Linked DNA regions of Homo sapiens: region 2 is linked to region 1. Evidence: fine-mapped expression QTL. A gene starts in region 1. The other region holds a variant in brackets. All regions are shown on one strand. Distances are between the middles of the regions.

Region 1 (9,627 bases):
CATAGTTTTTTTATAGTTGTTTGTTTGTTTTTTGAGATAAAACTCTTATGTATTTTGAAATGCAGAAATTTTAACTGTGCAATTTCAATTTGTTTTTGAAGGACCTAGTTTGGAAGTTTCTAAGAACATAGAGTAAAAAGAAAAAGGAAAGTTATGAGAAAAAGCTTAAGGGGTAATTCCAGTAAACAAAATATAAGTTTACTAGGACTTTTAGGGGGAATTAATGAAGAGGAAAAAATGAAAAAGCAAAGATATTATTAAGGAAAATTTCTCTAAAATCAAGAAAGATTTGAAACTTTGTTAAAAAAGACCTAATAAATGTTGAACAAGATTAATAGAAAAACATATATGTATTATACAATACATACCTTCATACATCCTGGTGAAAATTCTGAACTTCAAGGATAAAGCGAATTTTCACAAGCTTTCAACTGGAAAACACAGGATACCTATAAAGGGACAAGGAAAAAAAAAAAAAGCAAGAAAGGATCATGGCGACCACCAGAAGGGTTTTATATTTGGCAGTTTCACCAGCTTCCCCAAAACACATCAATCAGGGAACACCAGTATTCCAAAAGAAAGGGGAAATGATATTAACTGAAGTGAGTTAGGGGAGTTGAAAATGCAAAAAAAACAAAAACAAAAAACAAAAACAGCTATTCATGACAGTATGGGCTGAAGGTCCCATGCGGTATCAGTTTTGTTTTCATAGTGATAGTGACATTTGTTCCACATTTGCTGAGGGACACTGAGGGCCTGGTGGGGGTGGTGTTCCCAGGTTTGTAGAGAAATGTCTTAGTTTGTGTTGGAAAGATACTACCACTAAGTCTTCTAAGAAGACAACAGCAATTTGGGCATGGCTTAGCAACGAATACTTGTCTCTACTCTTTATTTAGCATTAGCAGGGGTGGCTCACCTTGGGGCTGGAGGATTCTCTTCTCACTGTGTTGCCCAGACTGGAGTGCAGTGGCACAGTCTTGGCTCACTGCAACCACCACCTCCCAGGTTCAAGCGATTCTCCTACCTCAGCCTCCCAAGTAGGTGGGATTACAGGCATTCACCACCACACCCAGATAATTTTTGTATTTTTAGTAGAGACAGGGTTTTACCATCTTGGCCACACTGGTCTTGAACTCCTGACCTCAAGTGATCCACCTGCCTTGGCCTCCCAAAGTGTTGAGATTACAGGCATAAGCCATTGCCCCTGGCCCACCTTATCACTTTAATAATGCATACACATTGAATTGGGGTAACATGAAAAACACTTTTCCTGATATTTGCCTCCAGTCATTTTTCCTATTGTTTGTAACTCTTGCCTGCATAGATCTAAAGATTTAACATTTGATAGGAAGATAATTGAACCACTAAAGGGGAATCATTCTTATATGTAGGGAGAAATCAATTATTTCCAAGAAGATTCCTTATTTAAAAACTGATGTGGCGGGACACGGTAGCACACACCTGTAGTCCCAGCTACTCAGGAGGCTGAGGCAGGAGAATCACTTGAACCCGGGAGGTGGAGGTTGCAGTGAGCCGAGATCACACTGTTGCACTCCAGCCTGGGCGACAGAGCGAAACTCCATCTCAAAAAAGAAAAAAAAAAAATGAAAAAAACTCAAAACTGATTTGGTATCTATACAATGGACTAATACTCTGTGATTTAAAAGAAAGACGGACATACATTGATACTGATATATTACCATCTTAAATGGATCTCAAGGACATTTTGGTGGATGAAAAAAAAAGTTGATCCCCAAAGTTGCATACTATATGATTCCACTTTTATAATATTCTTGAAAGGACGTAAGTATAGCCGTGGAGAACAAATTAGTGATTGCCAAAGAACAGGGAGGAGGACAGTGGACTGGTGCAACTATTAATATGTAGTACTATAAGGGATAGCACTATGAAAGGGTAACACAGGACACACACACACACACACAAGCTAGTGCATGTAAAAACTGGTGAAATTGGAATAAAGCCTGTGGTCTGGTTAACAATATTTTACAGATGTCAGTTTCCTGGTTTTAATATTGTACTATAATCACGTAAGAGGCAATGATCAGAGGAAGGTGGGTGAAGGGTATATGGGACTCTGCTATATTTGCAATTTCCTGTGAATCTATAATTATTTCAAATTAAAGAAGGGGAAAAAATCAAACACAAGACATACAAACTCATCAAGTATTTCCTTTTTTTTTGGAAAAAAAAAAAACACCTACTGATTGTGAATGGCTTTATTGGCTGCTTCCTTTAACTCCCACAACTCTCTGAAATAGATGTTATGAACTCTATTTTAATTTTCATCAAAATGGAGGCTTAGGTTAAGTAATCTGTCCAAGGCACAACTACTGTTAGAGCCAGGGTTTGAATCCAGCACAATATAAATCCCACTCATGGTTGTTTTGGTTTAATCTTGATTGGACTTAAATGACACCGTTCTTTTCTTTAACACCCAGACTGGAGTGCAATGGCATGATCTCGGCTCACTGCAACCTCCGCCTCCCGGGTTCAAACGATTCTCCAGCCCCAGCCTCCCGAGTATCTGGGACTACAGGCATGAGCCACCACACCCAGCTGATTTTTGTATTTTTAGTAGAGACAGGGTTTCACCATATTGGCCAGGCTTGTCTTGAACCCCTGACCTCAAGTGATCTGCCCGCCTCAGCCTCTCAAAGTGTTGGGATTACAGGTGTGAGCCACCGCGCCCGGCCAACACTGTTCTTTTCTGCAATCTATTCTTCTACTTAACAAAGATTAGAGGACTTTACAGTTGCCTTTTTTTTTTTTTTCCAGACGGAGTCTCACTCTGTCGCCAGGTTGGATTGCAGTGGCACGATCCCGGTTCACTGCAACCTCCGCCTCCCAGGTTCAAGCGAGTCTCCTGTCTCAGCCTCCCAAGTAGCTGGGGCTACAGGCGCGCGCCACCAGGCCGAGCTAATTTTTTGTATTTTTAGTAGAGACGGGGTTTCACCGTGTTGGCCAGGATGGTCTCAATCTCTTGACCTCGTGATCCACCCGCCTCGGCCTCCCAAAGTTCTGGGATTATAGGCGTGAGCCACTGTGCCTAGCCTGCCATTACGTTTGTAATCCCAGCACTTTGGGAGGCCGAGGCAGGCGGATCACGAGGTCAGGAGTTCGAGACCAGCCTGGCCAACATAGTGAAACCCCGTCTCTACTAAAAATACAAAAATTAGCCGGGCGTGGTGGCGCGTGCCTGTAGTCCCAGCTACTCGGGAGGCTGAGGCAGGAGAATCGCTTGAACCCGGGAGGTGGAGGCTGCAGCGAGCCGAGATGGCCCTACTGAACACCAGCCCAGGCGACAGTGTGAGATTCCTCTCAAAAGAAAAAAAAATAATAATCTTTCTGCCAGAGGTGAGAGAGCAGAAAAAAAATTAATCAGATTCTCAAATTCCTGTACGTCTCTTAGTAGAGACGGGTTTCTCCTTGTTGGTCAGGCTGATCTTGAACTCCCAATCTCAGGTGATCCGCCCGCCTCGGCCTTCCAAAGTGCTGGGATTACAGGCGTGAGCCACCGCGCCCGGCCACAAGACGTTTTATTGCAACATAAAAACAGGATGTAACGAGTCTTCCAATCACCAATGTAATTAGAGTTGGTTACCAAGTTTCCCCACGCGTCTTCCACCATGAGGGAGAAACGGACTGCAGACAAACCTAGCACCCCTTGAGCAGTTTAATTCGTACTATAAATATGTAGGCACCGTAAGGACGCGATTCTCCAGTTTGCCAGGCCTTTTTCTATCCTTTTGGGGGCACAAGGCGACCTTGCCTCCTGATTCAAAAACTTCGTAAACGTCAATCCTTCTACCCTTTTCTGGTCAGCCCACGAAAGCAGCAGCATGGCACAACTCCCAGCCTAGAGTTCGGGCACTGCCTGTCGTCAGCATAACGAAGAAACCTACACCCACGAAGACTTCAGACCCCACGTGATTACATCACTCAACCACCAGCGCTGGCCTGGAGGAACCCGCTGTCACGTGACCGCTCGTGCCCAATGACCGAGGCCCACGCTTTCCAGACCGCCACAGTCGCTGTCACAGGGCCTGAGTTTGGGCGGCGCCCCGCCCCGGCCGCACGGTGCGCCGGCGTTAATCCTCCCCGAAGGTTCCGGCAGCCAAGATTGCAGGTTCCCACCAAGCATTGTTTCCGAACTGGGCCACGAGAGCGTGTCCCTGATTGGCTTGCTCTGGAGGCTGGGAAGGGACCTGTTAGAGACTGGGACCACTTCCTGAAGCGCGAGGCAGGAAGTTATATGCTTTTTCTGGAGTCCTGTAGAGAAAGTGCTCTCTGCCGCATTGATAGCAGCGAGAGCTGGAGGTGTTGGGTCGGGAGACCAGCCGTTCGATCCCGCCGCAGGTAGGAGCTGGTTTCCATCCTGGCACCACGGCACACACCTCCAGCCTCGAGCCCGGCGCTGCTGCCCGGGGGTCTCCTTCAGGCTCTTTGACGCCGTTCCAGGGGGCACCTATCCAGGCATCCTCTGGGCCTCTAGCCAGAGGACTGGCTCCCGGCTTCAGCACTCCGGGCTGCAGTAAGAAGTGCCCTTATCGCTCTGAGCCCTGCCACCATCCCGTGAACCACCGAAACCCTGGTCCAGCGCGACAGCCTTGGACCTGGGACTGGACGGATCCAAAACGCTCAGCCTCGGCCCCCCACAGACGGGGCTCTGCATCGTCTCTGATATGTCACCCACCATCTCCCACAAGGACAGCAGCCGGCAACGGCGGCCAGGGAATTTCAGTCACTCTCTGGATATGAAGAGCGGTCCCCTGCCGCCAGGCGGTTGGGATGACAGTCATTTGGACTCAGCGGGCCGGGAAGGGGACAGAGAAGCTCTTCTGGGGGATACCGGCACTGGCGACTTCTTAAAAGCCCCACAGAGCTTCCGGGCCGAACTAAGCAGCATTTTGCTACTACTCTTTCTTTACGTGCTTCAGGGTATTCCCCTGGGCTTGGCGGGAAGCATCCCACTCATTTTGCAAAGCAAAAATGTTAGCTATACAGACCAAGCTTTCTTCAGTTTTGTCTTTTGGCCCTTCAGTCTCAAATTACTCTGGGCCCCGTTGGTTGATGCGGTCTACGTTAAGAACTTCGGTCGTCGCAAATCTTGGCTTGTCCCGACACAGTATATACTAGGACTCTTCATGATCTATTTATCCACTCAGGTGGACCGTTTGCTTGGGAATACCGATGACAGAACACCCGACGTGATTGCTCTCACTGTGGCGTTCTTTTTGTTTGAATTCTTGGCCGCCACTCAGGACATTGCCGTCGATGGTTGGGCGTTAACTATGTTATCCAGGGAAAATGTGGGTTATGCTTCTACTTGCAATTCGGTGGGCCAAACAGCGGGTTACTTTTTGGGCAATGTTTTGTTTTTGGCCCTTGAATCTGCCGACTTTTGTAACAAATATTTGCGGTTTCAGCCTCAACCCAGAGGAATCGTTACTCTTTCAGGTAGTGTATTTAAGCTATTATGGTGTTAGGTTTATTTATCCTTTTGAAAGAGTGTGTGACGTTGGAGGGAAGCTCATTAATTTACTGGAAATCATTGTATGGGAGATAACTCAAGGTAAGTTTTCTGTTTCGTCCAAATGAGCTTCTTTGAAATATTAAAGCCAAAATGAATGATATTAGAGCAATCAAATGATCACTATGCGGTTAACAGGGAGAGGCAACCCATCAAATAACACAACCGAGTCCAGGGATTCATGCCACTTGCTTAATACACAAATGCACACTTTTAAAAAGTGTGGCTCATATGGTTCACATTTTTCCTTTTGTCTTGTTGGTTTTAGGTTTCTAGCTCTATACTTTCTAATCCATTTCTACCCCTACCGTTGTACCCAGAATCCAGCCTTCTAGTGAATGGAACAGGGTTTATTCGTTCAAACATTATTGAACCAGCTAAGGGACGGGATTCTAAGGCCTCTAATGAATAAGGCAGAGTTCTGCACTCAAGAAATAAGGAAGATGAACATTTTAGGAGAGTTCAGAGTTGCCAGTTAGTAACTGCCTTTGGGAGTCAGGCTTCACATTGCAGATAACATTTGACTTTGTTCTTGAATAAGATTCCACGAGGCCAGGAAATGGCACACCAGAATGCACAACACAAAGTAAAAGTGCACTGAGGCAGGAAAGTACAAAAAAGTACAGGACATTGCCTAAATTGTGGAACTGGGTTTGGGAAATCGTGCTGAGAAAGGCTGTGACTAAATTAGTAAGATTTTCTTTAATTACTATGGGAAAAGAGTTTAAAGTTTGTCCTGTAAGTAATGGAGGGTAAGTTCTAAAAAATTTCCCTGTTTCTCTGCATGAGTAAAACACATGTAAGTTTTTCTCTTTTTTCTTTTTTCTTCTTTTTTTTAATTGAGATAGTTGGGGGTCGGGGGGGCTGTCTCACTATGTTGGCCAGGCTGGTCTTGAACTCCTGGCCTCAGGTGATTCTCCCCCTCCTTGGCCTCCCAAAGTACTGGGAATTATAAGTGTGAACCACCCCACCTGGCCTAAGCTTTTTTGTTTGTTTGTTTGTTTTTAACTTTTGTAACAACTAGAAAACAAGTAAAATGACCAATATCAGGAATAACAATGTCAGGAATATAGTGAAATTCTTCATTCTGTCAGTGATGATGAATTTAGGGGATTCTGTTTTGAAATTTAAGCAACTGAACTTCTCAGCTTCTGTGCTACCTTGGAAATTCACAGTAGAGTAAATGTCCAGGTATGTGGTGGTGGTAGGAGGTGTCACAACTACACTATTTTCCTGCAATCTTATTCTCACAGACATCTAACCTTATGTACACCTCCTCAAACTGCTAATGAGTGAGCCACTATTACTGGTGAAATGATGGTGATAGTACTTTTTCCTCAGTTGTTTGGTTGAGAGATAATTGCTTTGCACCCAGGTAGATTTGTCTCAGTGTTCTGGGGTTCCACTCCTGCTTTATGAATAATTCACTGCTGGCCGGGCACAGTGGCTCACACCTGTAATCCCAGCACTTTGGGAGGCTGAGGTGGGAGGATCACTTGAGGTCAGGAGTTTGAGACCAGCCTGGCCAGCATGGCGAAACCCCATTTTTGAGACTCTGTCTCAAAAATAAATAAATAAATAAAATAAAAAATAAGTCACGACTGGGCACAGTGGCTCACACCTGTTATCCCAGCACTTTGGGAGTCTGAGGTGGGAGGACTGCTTGAGCTGAGGAGGTAGAGCCAGCTTGGGCAATACAGCAAGACCTCATCTCTACTAAAAATTAAAAAAAAAAAAAAAATAGCTGGGTGTTTTGCGAAGGCCTGTAACCCTAGCTACTCAGGAGGCTGAGGCAGGAGGATTGCTTCAGCCCGGGAGATTGTGGCTTCAGTGAGCTATGATCCAATCATTGCACCCCAGCCTGGTCAACAGAGTGCAACCCTGTCTTAAAATTATATATATGTATTTTTTATATGGAGTCTCCCTCTGACACTAGACTGGAGTGCAGTGGCAGGACCTCAGCTCACTGCGATTTCCACTTCTCTAGTTCAAGCCATTCTCCTGCCTCAGCCTCCTGAGTAGTGGGATTACAGGCATGTGCCACCACACCCAGCTAATTTTTGTATTTTTAGTACAGACAAGGTTTCACTGTGTTGGCCAGGATGGTCTCGATCTCCTGATCTTGTGATCCGCCCACCTCGGCCTCCCAAAGTGTTGGGATTACAGGCGTAAGCCACTGCGCCCAGCCAAAATAAATTAATTAATTAAAAATAAAATTAAAATAAAGAAGTCAAGGCTGGTGCAGTGGCTCACGCCTGTAATCCCAGCACTTTGGGAGGCTGAGGTGGACAGATCACCTGAGATCAGGAGTTTGAGACCAACCTGGCCAACATGGCAAAACCCCTTCTCTATTAAAAATACAAAAATTAGGTGGAAGTGGTGGCATTCACTTGTAATCCCAGCTACTCAGGAGGCTGGGTGGGGAGAATCGCTTGAACCCAGGAAGCAGAGGTTGCAGTGAACCGAGATCGCACCATTGCATTCCAGTCTAGGCGGCAGAGCAAGGCTCCATCTCAAAAAAAAAAAAAGAATAAGTCAGTGTAAATTAAAATCCAGTGGCATAATTTTGATCCATTAGGGAACAGTTGTGGCTAAGGGAGTATAAATATAATAACTCTTGAACTCATAACATTATTCTCTGGAATGATGTTTTACCAATCACTCTTACATTAAGAGAAAGTTCCAATTTAGCTAATTAGCAATTTAGTTTCCATGGCCTCTTAAACCTTGATTTCACTGAGGCTTTCTCATCTTAAGTAACATCATCTCCTTAATCCTCTGTGGTGATATAAACAGCAGTCTCAGGACAAAATGAAAAGCAGACACATAAAAAGCAACAAACTGGCTGGGCGCGTTGGCTCACGCCTGTAATCCCAACACTTTGGGAGGCCAAGGCAGGAGGATCACAAGGTCAGGAGATCAAGACCATCCTGGCCAACATGGTGAAACCTTGTCTCTTCTAAAAATACAAAAATTAGCCCGGTGTGATGGCATGCACCTGTAGTCTCAGCTACTCAGGAGGCTGAGGCAGGGGAATCGCTTCAACCTGGGAGGCGGAGGTTGCAGTGAGCTGAGATCGCGCCACTGCACTCCAGCCTGGGCGACAGAGAAAGACTCCATCTCAAAAAAGAAAAAAGCAACAAACTGATAACAGACAGTATGCATTCACAGAGTATTTCTAGGCAGTGAATTGTTATTATTATTATTATTATTATTATTATTATTATTATTATTATTATTCTGAGATGGAGTCTCGCTCTGTCGCCCAGGGTAGAGTGCAGTGGTATGATCTCAGCTCACTGCAACTTCCCCCTCCAGGGCTCAAGCTATTCTGCTGCCTCAGCCTCCCTAGTAGCTGGGATTATAAGCGTGTGCCACCATGCCTGGCTAATTTTTGTATTTTTGGTAGAGATGGGGTTTCGCCATGTTGGCCAGGCTGGTCTTGAACTCCTGACCTCAAGTGATCTGCTCACCTCGGCTTCCCAAAGTGCTGGGATTACAAGTGTGAGCCACTGTGCCTGGCTGTCACTTGTTATTTTGAATTGCCCCTTTTTTTTTTTTTCCTGTGGAATTTGAACTTTGTTCTGCAGTAGATTCTATAACTAGCTTACTTTTTAATTCAACTGTTTATATCTGTAGTGGACTGCTGTTTCTGGTTCAAACATTTTAGTTGAAAGTTAGAATTCCTATAGTTTCATTCTCCTTTTTATGACTGAACATACCACATTTATAACATTGTTCTTTCTGGAACTTATTAATAGGATAAGAAAAACCAGTGGTTTTGAAAAAGTTATATAGCACAGGAAGAATTATATGATGGAAATATAATTGCTTAGGTGATTAAAGAGGAGCTAAACACTGAGGCAATGTTTAGAAAATCTGAGTATTAAAAGGAAGCGTAATTGTTTTCTTTTTTTAATTCTAAAATATGTTCTGGCCAGGTGCAGCGGCTCACACCTGTAATCCTAGCACTTTGGGAGGCTGAGGTGGGCAGATTGCTTGAGCTCAGAAGTTCAAGACCACTCTGGGCAACATGGTGAAACCCCAGCTCTACTAAAAATACAAAAAATTAGCCG
Region 2 (9,627 bases), 27 kb after region 1:
TAATGCATATTTCTGAGTCACTTTGGATTTTTCTAGCTTATATCCTTTGAAAGTTATATTTGCTAATGTATGAATTAATTTTTAACTGAAACGTAAAAATATGACTACCAGGTAATCTCAGTAGTTTTGTGCATACAGTAAATCATTTAGGAGAAATCTGTAGTGGATCCTGTCAGACTAAATTCTATGCTTATAAAATTATTGAGGCCAAACTGTCAAATATAATTTTTTTTTCTGTTTTGCACATGCTTAGTTAAGGCTAGATATGTAATAGAAGGTTAAAGAAATACTTTAACTAGTCAATGCTTCAGTATTTCTGTCGGTATGTTATAGCCCAAAAAAAGTATTTATTTAGCTTTGGATTTCATTTGAGAATTTCCTGAAGTGTAATCACTGAAACTCAGATAACCAGATGCTTTATGGGGGAAAAAAGGTACAAGACCAAATAAATTCGAGAAATGATGTATGACATAAGCCTTCTGTAAGTAGTGCCTTAATGATTCCTTCAACAAATTTTTTTTTTTTTTTTTTTTTTTTTTTTTTTTTTGAGACAGAGTCTCACTCTGTTGCCCAGGCTGGAGTGCAGTGGCACAATCTCGGCTCACTGTGATACCTCCACCTCCCGGGTTCAAGTGATTCTCCTGCTTCTGCCTCCCAAGTAGCTGGGATTACAGATGAGCACCACCTCACCCAGCTGATTTTTGTATTTTTAGTAGAGACGGGTTTTACCACATTGGCCAGGCTGGTCTTGAACTCCTGACCTCAGGTGATCCGCCCACCTCGGCCTTCCAAAGTGCTGGGATTATAGGTGTGAGCCACCGCACCCAGCTTCTTCAACAAATATTAAGTGAACACCTATTCCCTGCCAGAAACCATTCTGAGTACTGAAATATAACTTAATAAATCATGCCCAAATCCCTGCCCTCAAGGAGTGTATGTTGTAAATATTTCAAAAGGCATACAATGAAAGGAACCTTTTCAATTTTGTGTAAGTTAGTGTCTTTCAGTCTTATTTGACTTTGGAACTCCTTTTTCTGTGAACACCCCCAAAAACACTATTCAAAGGAATACCATTATTGAAACACAGTTTGTTTCCATCTTTCTAAATTAAAGGTTAATTCTTGCCTTTTAAGTACTTTTTGCCTCTTAAGGATGTTTTTCTCCAGTTTGTCACATAAATTTTGAAATACTTTTCTTGTGTATATGTAGGAGAAAAATATATATATTCCTATTTCTTTAAATATTTGAGTATTTATATATGTAATAAATGCATACATATAAATATGTATATATACACATGCAATATATGATACATATTTAGGTACAGTACAAATATGAGGTTTTGCATTTTGCTGTATGCATTATGTATCCTTTAGTGCCACCTCATCTAACATTTTCTCCGTGGAGTCTTTCTTGACTACTTGTGGTAGAATTAATCTCTCATTTATCTTTATGCCCCAGTAACACAATGTGTGCACTTCTATTTACAGTACTTCCTGTATTTATAATTATTTATTCCCCATTTTCCAGCCTAGAATAAATTCTTCAATGTCACAGAAGGACCAAGGTCACATCTTTGTATTGCTGGGATCTTTTTTTTTATTTATTTATTTTTATTTATTTATTTTTTTTGAGACTGAGTCTCCCTCTGTCGCCCAGGCTGGAGTGCAGTGGTGCGATCTCAGCTCACTGCAAGCTCCGCCTCCCGGGTTCACGCCATTCTCCTGCCTCAGCCTCCCAAGTAGCTGGGACTACAGGCGCCTGCCACCACATCCGGCTATTTTTTTTTTTTTTTTGTATTTTTCAGTAGAGACAGGGTTTCACCGTGTTAGCCAGGATGGTCTCGATCTCCTGACCTTGTGATCCGCCCGCCTTGGCCTCCCAAAGTGCTGGAATTACAGGCATGAGCCACCGCGCCCGGCCTGTATTGCTGTGATCTTAAAGCCTGGCCTATAGTAGGTGCTTGATAAGTATTTGTTGAATTGAGTTCAATAAATACCATGAAAATTAATTTCAGGTTTATGACTTTGATGTTCTTAATTTAGACTGTAGCTTTATAAGCTTTATAATCATACTAAAGATGTTTTACATTTTTCCGTAGGTTACAGTGTACAGCATGTATGTTTCTATAATGGCTTTCAATGCAAAGGTTAGTGATCCACTTATTGGAGGAACATACATGACCCTTTTAAATACCGTGTCCAATCTGGGAGGAAACTGGCCTTCTACAGTAGCTCTTTGGCTTGTAGATCCCCTCACAGTAAAAGAGTGTGTAGGAGCATCAAACCAGAATTGTCGAACACCTGATGCTGTTGAGGTAAGTATGTTTTAATTTTAGATAACATTAAGCTAATACTAAGATATTAATATCTTTGTTTTGTCTCTAGAAGTACTATATCTTTTTTAAAAATCATATCTGTCCATAGGTTCTGGTTTAGAAATCTACATATATATTTTCTTTCACATCAAGGCTGAGGGTTATAATCATTCAAATCAGCAAGACTAGTTCCCTTAAAGGCGTTTCTCAGTAAAGGAGAGGCGATCTCTCTTTCCCCCACCTTGACGATCACTGTCCTACACAGCAGGCACTATATAAATGCATAATTAATAGCTTAAGTTTTGTAGTGATAGAAAAAGGGAATGTCCATTGGCTATTCCTATAACAGTGATAACTAAACCTGTATAGTGAGTGGTTTGTTGATAAATTCTTTCAAAGTGGTATTTGTCTACTTCTAGAGTAGATGGACTGGAAATTTCTTCACATTTCCGAATGTGAAAGCTGCATCGTGAAAATAGATAATCGGGCCAGGTGCAGTGGCTCACGCCTGTATTCTTAGCACTTTGGGAGGCTAAGGCGGGTGGATTGCCTGAGCTCAGGAGTTTGACACCAGCCTGGGCAACACGGTGAAACCCCATCTCTACTAAAATACAAAAAATTAGCCGGGCGGGGTGGTGTGTGCCTGTAGTCCCAACTACTCAGGAGGCTGAGACAGGAGAATTGCTAGAACTGGGAGGCGGAGGTTGCAGTGAGCTGAGATCGCGCCCCTGTACTCCAGCCTGGGCGACAGAACAAGACTCCGTCTCTTAAAAAAAAAAAAAAAAAAAAAACATATTCGGCTGGGTATGGTGGCTCACACCCGTAATTCCAGCATTTTGAGAGGCTGAAGCAGGCAGATTGCTTGAGCCCAGGAGTTCAAGACCACCCTGGGCCACATGGTGAAGCACCATCTCTACAAAAAATGTAGAAATTAATGGGGCATGGTGGTGCACGCCTGTGGTCTTATCTACTCACAAGGCTGAGGTGGGAGGATTGCTTGAGCCCAGGAGCCAGAGACCGCAGTGAGCCATTATCACACCACTGCATTTCAGCCGGGGCCACAAGTGAGACCGTGTCTCAAAAAAGAAAATGAGTATTGTTTACAGCAAGAACTGAAAATTGTTTTTAATCCTGTTAGTAGCATTAGAGAGATTAAGATACATTAACATATTTTGTCATTGGAATTCAGTGAAATACTGAAATGTTTTAAGAAAAATATATTTTTATTCTTTATAAAGTAGAAGCATGTTAATTGCTAAATACTTTCATTTTGAAATTGTGGAGTATTTATTATAGTTTTATTTTTACAGCTTTGCAAAAAACTGGGTGGCTCATGTGTTACAGCCCTGGATGGTTATTATGTGGAGTCCATTATTTGTGTTTTCATTGGATTTGGTTGGTGGTTCTTTCTTGGTCCAAAATTTAAAAAGTTACAGGATGAAGGATCATCTTCGTGGAAATGCAAAAGGAACAATTAATATATATGCTACTGGACATTCTAGCAAGGTAATTGTAGTTTAGTTTTAATTCGGAGAGCAATGATAATCAGTGCACAGGAGTATAAAATATTATTTTAAACAGCGAAATTAATAATATAAAATGCCAAATGGTTGAAAAAATAGAAACCTTTCTGTATATTTGATCATATTTTTTTTTTGCCTTGTCAATGTATTTAAAGTTTACTTAAGGTCAGGAAATTCTAAAACAACTTTTCTGGCCTTGTTATTTGATGTATATCTTTTAAATTTACTGACCAAAGCATGTTTTAAGCTGCAATGCAGTAGTCACGGGTGGTAACCATGTAGTCAGGTATTGTTATTAGTACCTATCACTGCTGAGCTGTATTTAAAATTTTGGTACAATATATAAAATGGAGAAGAGCTTGATATTCAGGTACTAACCACAACTAGTCTGACATTGTTGGCAGTTAAAATCTTATTTTGAATTGTAAATTAGTTAAATTTTATGTGGAATTTGCTGAGAAAAGAATATAGACTACTGAAATGTCATTTTAGTTATTTTTCTTATGACCACATTGTACAAATGAATCTGTGTTAAAAAGACTATTTTAAATGTATTTCCTGCTTTTGTAAGCATTAAAGATTTATAAGAAAATTATTCAAACTATTTTTTATAAAATGAAAGTTATGATTTTTAAACTTATTGATTCCTCTTGCCCCTACCCCCTCTTTTTGGAAGATATTTTGATTCCTTATAAACTTTTACCCTAAGCTTATATATGTTTTCTGTCACAAGTGCTTCCTGGCACACAGACAGCCAATGGAGGGGATCAAATTCAGTGTTGTATGTATGTTTATGGCAACATTTTGAAAATAAAAATTAAATGTTTTTCTTCAAGTAGTTTTTTTTTAATTGCTGAGAGAAAAAAACAGTAAAGCTTTCTGATTAAGTAAAATTTAAATGGGCAGTACCATAATTTAAAAAACTAATACTTTAAAGAGAGAGACAAAGATATTTTGTGCCTTTGACAAATTAAATCTAATAGTGGAAAAATGTTTCTTAATTAAGCACTTTACTAGTGAAAAAGATCTCACAATTTATGCCAAATCAGGTACTGTATTTTCATGTATTAACACATAACCTTTTGTTTGAATACTATAGTTTTCAGTGGACAGTTGCTATTCCAAGAAAATTAAGCTTTTGAGTACTTTAGCAATTCCCAGCGTATTACATACACCCAGTGATAAGGTTCTTTGCATGTTTTGTGTTATGTATTACTCTGACTCTTTAGAGATTATATAAATCCTCCAAAAGTTAGACGAAACAAGATAGTACATTATGAGTCTTAATTTTATCATTGTGGAAAAATGTGTACTAACTCCTGATTTTGTTAATTTTATAACATAGGTTGAATTTTAGAGTGGGGTTTTTATAAGTAATGGAGGATAAAATGGGTGGGAGAAAATGGCACACAGCACCTGAAGAAAGATGGGGCAGTGACCTCTAGAACTCATGCATTGCCATTGGAAAGCCTGTGTTGGGCATCGATGTCAGATCCTGAAGAATCACCTGGAAAAAATCCCATCCTAGAGGCAAGGAGGCTACACCAAACCATACACTACAGTACTTTGTCACATGGTTGTCCATTATCATGTATTAGAGTCTAAATGATTACTTGAATAAAGAAAA[AAAAC/C]CACTTAACTCTTACATATGAAATGTGTTTTGATTTTTAATTTTTGGATTAAGAAACTCAGATTGCCATAATAACCTTTTATTTCTTCCCGTGTATATTATTACAAATTATATATACTTTCAAACATAGTTTTTTTTTTTTTTAATTGAGACAGAGTCTCACTTTGTCACCCAGGCTGGAGTACAGTGGTGCAATCTCGGCTCACTGCAACCTCTGCCTCCTGGGTTCAAGTGATTCTCCTGCCCCAGTCCTCTGAGTAGCTGGGACTACAGGCGCACACCACCACACCCGGCTAATTTTTGTATTTTTAGTAGAGATGGGGTTTCACCATGTTGGCCAGGCTGGTCTTGAACTCCTGACCTCAAGTGATCCACCCGCCTCGGCCTCCCAAAGTGCTGGGATTACAGGCATGAGCCACTGCGCCCAGCCTTCAAACATAGTTTTAATGTCAGTACATCTTTAATGACTTGAAGTTTTAAAACATTTTAAGCCTTTAAGGTGAAAGCCATTTAATTAATTTGCTCTAGAAATAAGCACAAAAAATTATAGTTAATTTGAATACATGTATGTAATGCATGTCAAAATAACTTGTTAATAGCTATGTGCAACTGTGTTGCATACATTGATCACTAATGGCATTTAAAAATGATCTGCCTAAATCTGAGGATCTGTTTATTATAAATCAGTAGTACTAAAATATACCACCCTGTTTTTATGTTGTGGGTGTTTTTCTTGATTGATTGATCCTGATAAATTAAACAGTACCTTCAAGTATGGACTTTTAACTCCTCCAGTTAATGCATCATATGTTTACTGGCTAATATTAGATTGAACATTTTTCTCTCTATGTCAGTATCTCCATATGCACATTGGTTGCCGCATATATACATCTGAGTTTGAAAAGTTCTTCTGAGATTACCTAAAAGTAACACCACAGATTCCTTCCATTGTAAATACTTTATTTTATTTTATTATTATTTTTTAGAGACATGGTCTCACTTTTGCCCAAGCTGGAGTACAGTGATGCAATCATAGCTCACTGCAGCCTCAAATTCCTAGGCTCAAGGGATCTTCCTTAGGCTGGATGCTGTGGCTCACACCTGTAATCACAACACTTTAGGAGGCCAAGGCAGGAGGATCACTTGAGGTCAAGAGTTCAAGACCAACCTGGTCAATATAATAAGAACCTGTCTTTATGACTTCTTTTTTTTTTTTAATTATCCAGGCATGGTGGTACACACCAGTAGTCCCAGCTACTTGGGAAGCTTAGGCGGGAGGGTTACTTGAACCCAGGAGGTCAAGGCTTCAGTAAGCAGTGATTGTGGTACTACATTCCTGTCTGGGTGACAGAGTGAGACCCTGTCTCAACAACAAAAAAGGATCTTTCCACCTCAGCCTCTCTGGTAGCTAGGACTACAGGCACACAGCACTATGCCCAGCTAATAAAAAATAATAATTTTTTATAGAGGTGGGGTCCGCTATATTTTCCAGGCTAGTCCCAATCTCATAGCTTCAAGCAGTCGTCCAGCCTTGACCTCTCAAAATGCTGGGATTACAGGTGTAAGCCACCGTGCCCTGCCCATGATAAATATTTTAATTTTGCCTGATAAGTCATAAAAAGTTTATTCAACACCTTAAATAGATTTCTCAATTTTTTAAAAATATTAAACCTTTGAAATCGAAAGTAATTTTTGGATTTCACCCCTTTATTGCAAGGTTTTTGATGTCTGTGGGAAAAACCCCTGAATTGCTTGTGAAACTCTGGATATGTAATTTTTTTTCTTTTTCTGAACAGAGTAAAATCTTGGATGGGCCATGATCCAAAAATCATGGTTTTGAAAGTAGACCGTACTATAAGCCATAATCACAAATCTGAGGTAATAGTTGTGAAAGTGTTTAAAACATCCTGAAAACAATGTTGAAAAAAAAAATCTATGATAAAAACTATAAAATCTCTGCATATGTTATACTGTATTGAACTTGAAACTTTGAAGGAATTAGAGTAGATAAGACATTAATGGTAGAAGAGAAACCACAGGGGTGAATTATATCCTACAAAAGAGAAATCTTCATGATTTAACCTTTTTTTTCTGAGTGACTTTTATTTTGCCTTATTAACAGAAACCTGAGAAAGTATGTTGCTTTGTATTAAATGGTTGAGACCATTATTTGATATAAAAGCTGAAAATTTAATTTTTGTATTTTGGAGAATTCTGTGGTTCCAAGTAATTGAAAGAATGACTAAAGCTGTATGTCATAGACCCTGCTAAAATGAAATAACTTGTTGGGAACATTCCATGCAGATTTCCAAAATGTATTTTACCTTATTATTAGAGAAAGAAAATAAACTTTTAAAATAATCTGATAACTAGCATTCATATATTTAATAAGTATTTTGGTTACAGAAGGGAAGGTGATACTGTACATTGTAACTGCTGAGACTTTTTTTTAACCAATGTCTTTGGTAGATAGCGAGGCACAATTATTTTCTCTTAGGGAGGATTTTGAATACCTATTGCAGGCTGGGCATGGTGGCTCACGCCTGTAATCCCAACCCTTTGGGAGGCCGAGGTGGGTGGATCACTTGAGGTCAGGAGTTTGAGACCAGCCTGGCCAACATGGTGAAACGCCGTCTCTACTAAAAATACAAAAATTAGCCAGGCATAGGGTGGCACACGACTGTAATCCCAGCTACTAGGGAGGCTGAGGCAGGAGAATTGCTTGAGCCCGGGAGGCGGAGCTTGCAGTGAGTTGAGATTGCGCCACTACACTTCAGCCTGGGCGACAGAGCGAGACTCCGTTTCAAAAACAAACAAACAAAAACAAAACAAAAACACCTACTGCAGACCATGTTCTTTTTACTTTATTTTATTTTATTATTTTTTTGAGATGGAGTCTGGCTCTGTTGCCCAAGCTGCTCACTGCAACCTCCGCCTCCCGGGTTCAAGCGATTCTCCTGCCTCAGCCTTCCAAGTAGCTGGGACTACAGATGTGCACTACTACGCCCAGCTTATTTTTGTATTTTTGGTCGAGATGGGGTTTTGCCATGTTGGCCAGGCTGATCTCAAACTCCTGACCTTAGGTGATCTTCCCGCCTTGGCCTCCTAAAGTGCTGGGATTACAGGCGTGAGCCACCGCTGCTGGCTCTTTTTACTTTAGATTGTATCTGCCTGATTTGACAATGCCAAATTTTTTATGTAATCACCATTTGGTTTGGGACTGAGAGCTCTTTCATTTTCTACCAGTCAAACCACTATTAGAGTCTTCATGTTACTTCCCCAATTTGCTAGCAAGGTAGAATCAGCATGGATAGCTTATTTTCCTTATTGGAATTCTGTTTTGGAAGAGGCAGGTCTTATAGCAGGGCAGACTAATTAATGTGCTGAACTCATTCCCTCCTGCTTAAGTGAATAAAAACTTTTATTTGACTATGGATTATAAAGATTGCCTTTAAGGAGCCTTGTTTATTTTGGGGAAGGAGAATGGATATTTTGTAGGAGAAAAAGACTTTATATAGTAAATGAAAAGTCTATGGGCTGGGTGTAGTGGCTCATACCTTTAATCCCAACACTTTGGGATGCCAAGGTAGGAGTATTGCTTGAGCTCAGGAGATCGAGACCAGGGAGACTGCATCTCTATTTTTAATTAAAAAGGAAAGAAAAAGAAAGAAAGTTCTATGACTAATCACCTTTACTCTAAAAAAATTTTGCCCAAATGTGTAATGAAAGAGATCATATTTAAATATCAGCAATATTAATTTGCATAGCTCATAAGAAGTCTTGACTCATTTAGAAAAAGGTTGCTACAGTTTAATAGTTTTTTATTGTCAATATAGACAATATAACTTTATAACAATTTTATGTGAAGAATAATGATTAAATGGCATGACTGAAATGCACAAGGTACAGGTACAATCCTTAGGGAGTTATCTTAAATTTCTTTTTTTTTTTTTTTTTGAGATGGAGTCTTGCTCTGTCGCCCAGGCTGGAGTGCAGTGGCATGACTCCCTGCACCCTCTGCCTGCTGGGTTCAAGTGATTCTCCTTCCTCAGCCTCTCCATTAGCTGGGATTACAGGTGCCTTCCACCACACCTGGCTAATTTTTTTGTATAGTATAGACGGGGTTTCACCATGTTGGTCAGGCTGGTCTCAAACTC

What was found. PIP is the estimated chance that this variant, and not a neighbour inherited with it, causes the effect. A credible set is the group of variants that fine-mapping cannot tell apart.
Region 2: its variant is the best candidate, but not a certain one, in a credible set for the expression of SLC33A1 in whole blood (INTERVAL, PIP 0.62).

The regions. Positions count from the first base shown.
Region 1 is chr3:155,849,074-155,858,700 of GRCh38, reverse strand. SLC33A1 (solute carrier family 33 member 1) reads left to right here and starts at 4,274. Exons shown (of 6, transcript NM_004733.4): 1 at 4,274-5,478. The coding sequence starts at 4,704. LOC105374174 (a long non-coding RNA gene) reads right to left here and starts at 3,948. Exons shown (of 3, transcript XR_924607.4): 1 at 3,623-3,948; 2 at 369-449. RefSeq lists enhancers at 624-723, 3,687-4,246, 4,617-4,686.
Region 2 is chr3:155,822,378-155,832,004 of GRCh38, reverse strand. SLC33A1 (solute carrier family 33 member 1) reads left to right here. Exons shown (of 6, transcript NM_004733.4): 5 at 2,102-2,317; 6 at 3,628-9,627. The coding sequence ends at 3,795. Among named protein-coding and RNA genes, the nearest start is that of C3orf33, 21 kb to the right of the region's middle. The variant AAAAC/C (reference allele first, on the strand shown) is at 5,468.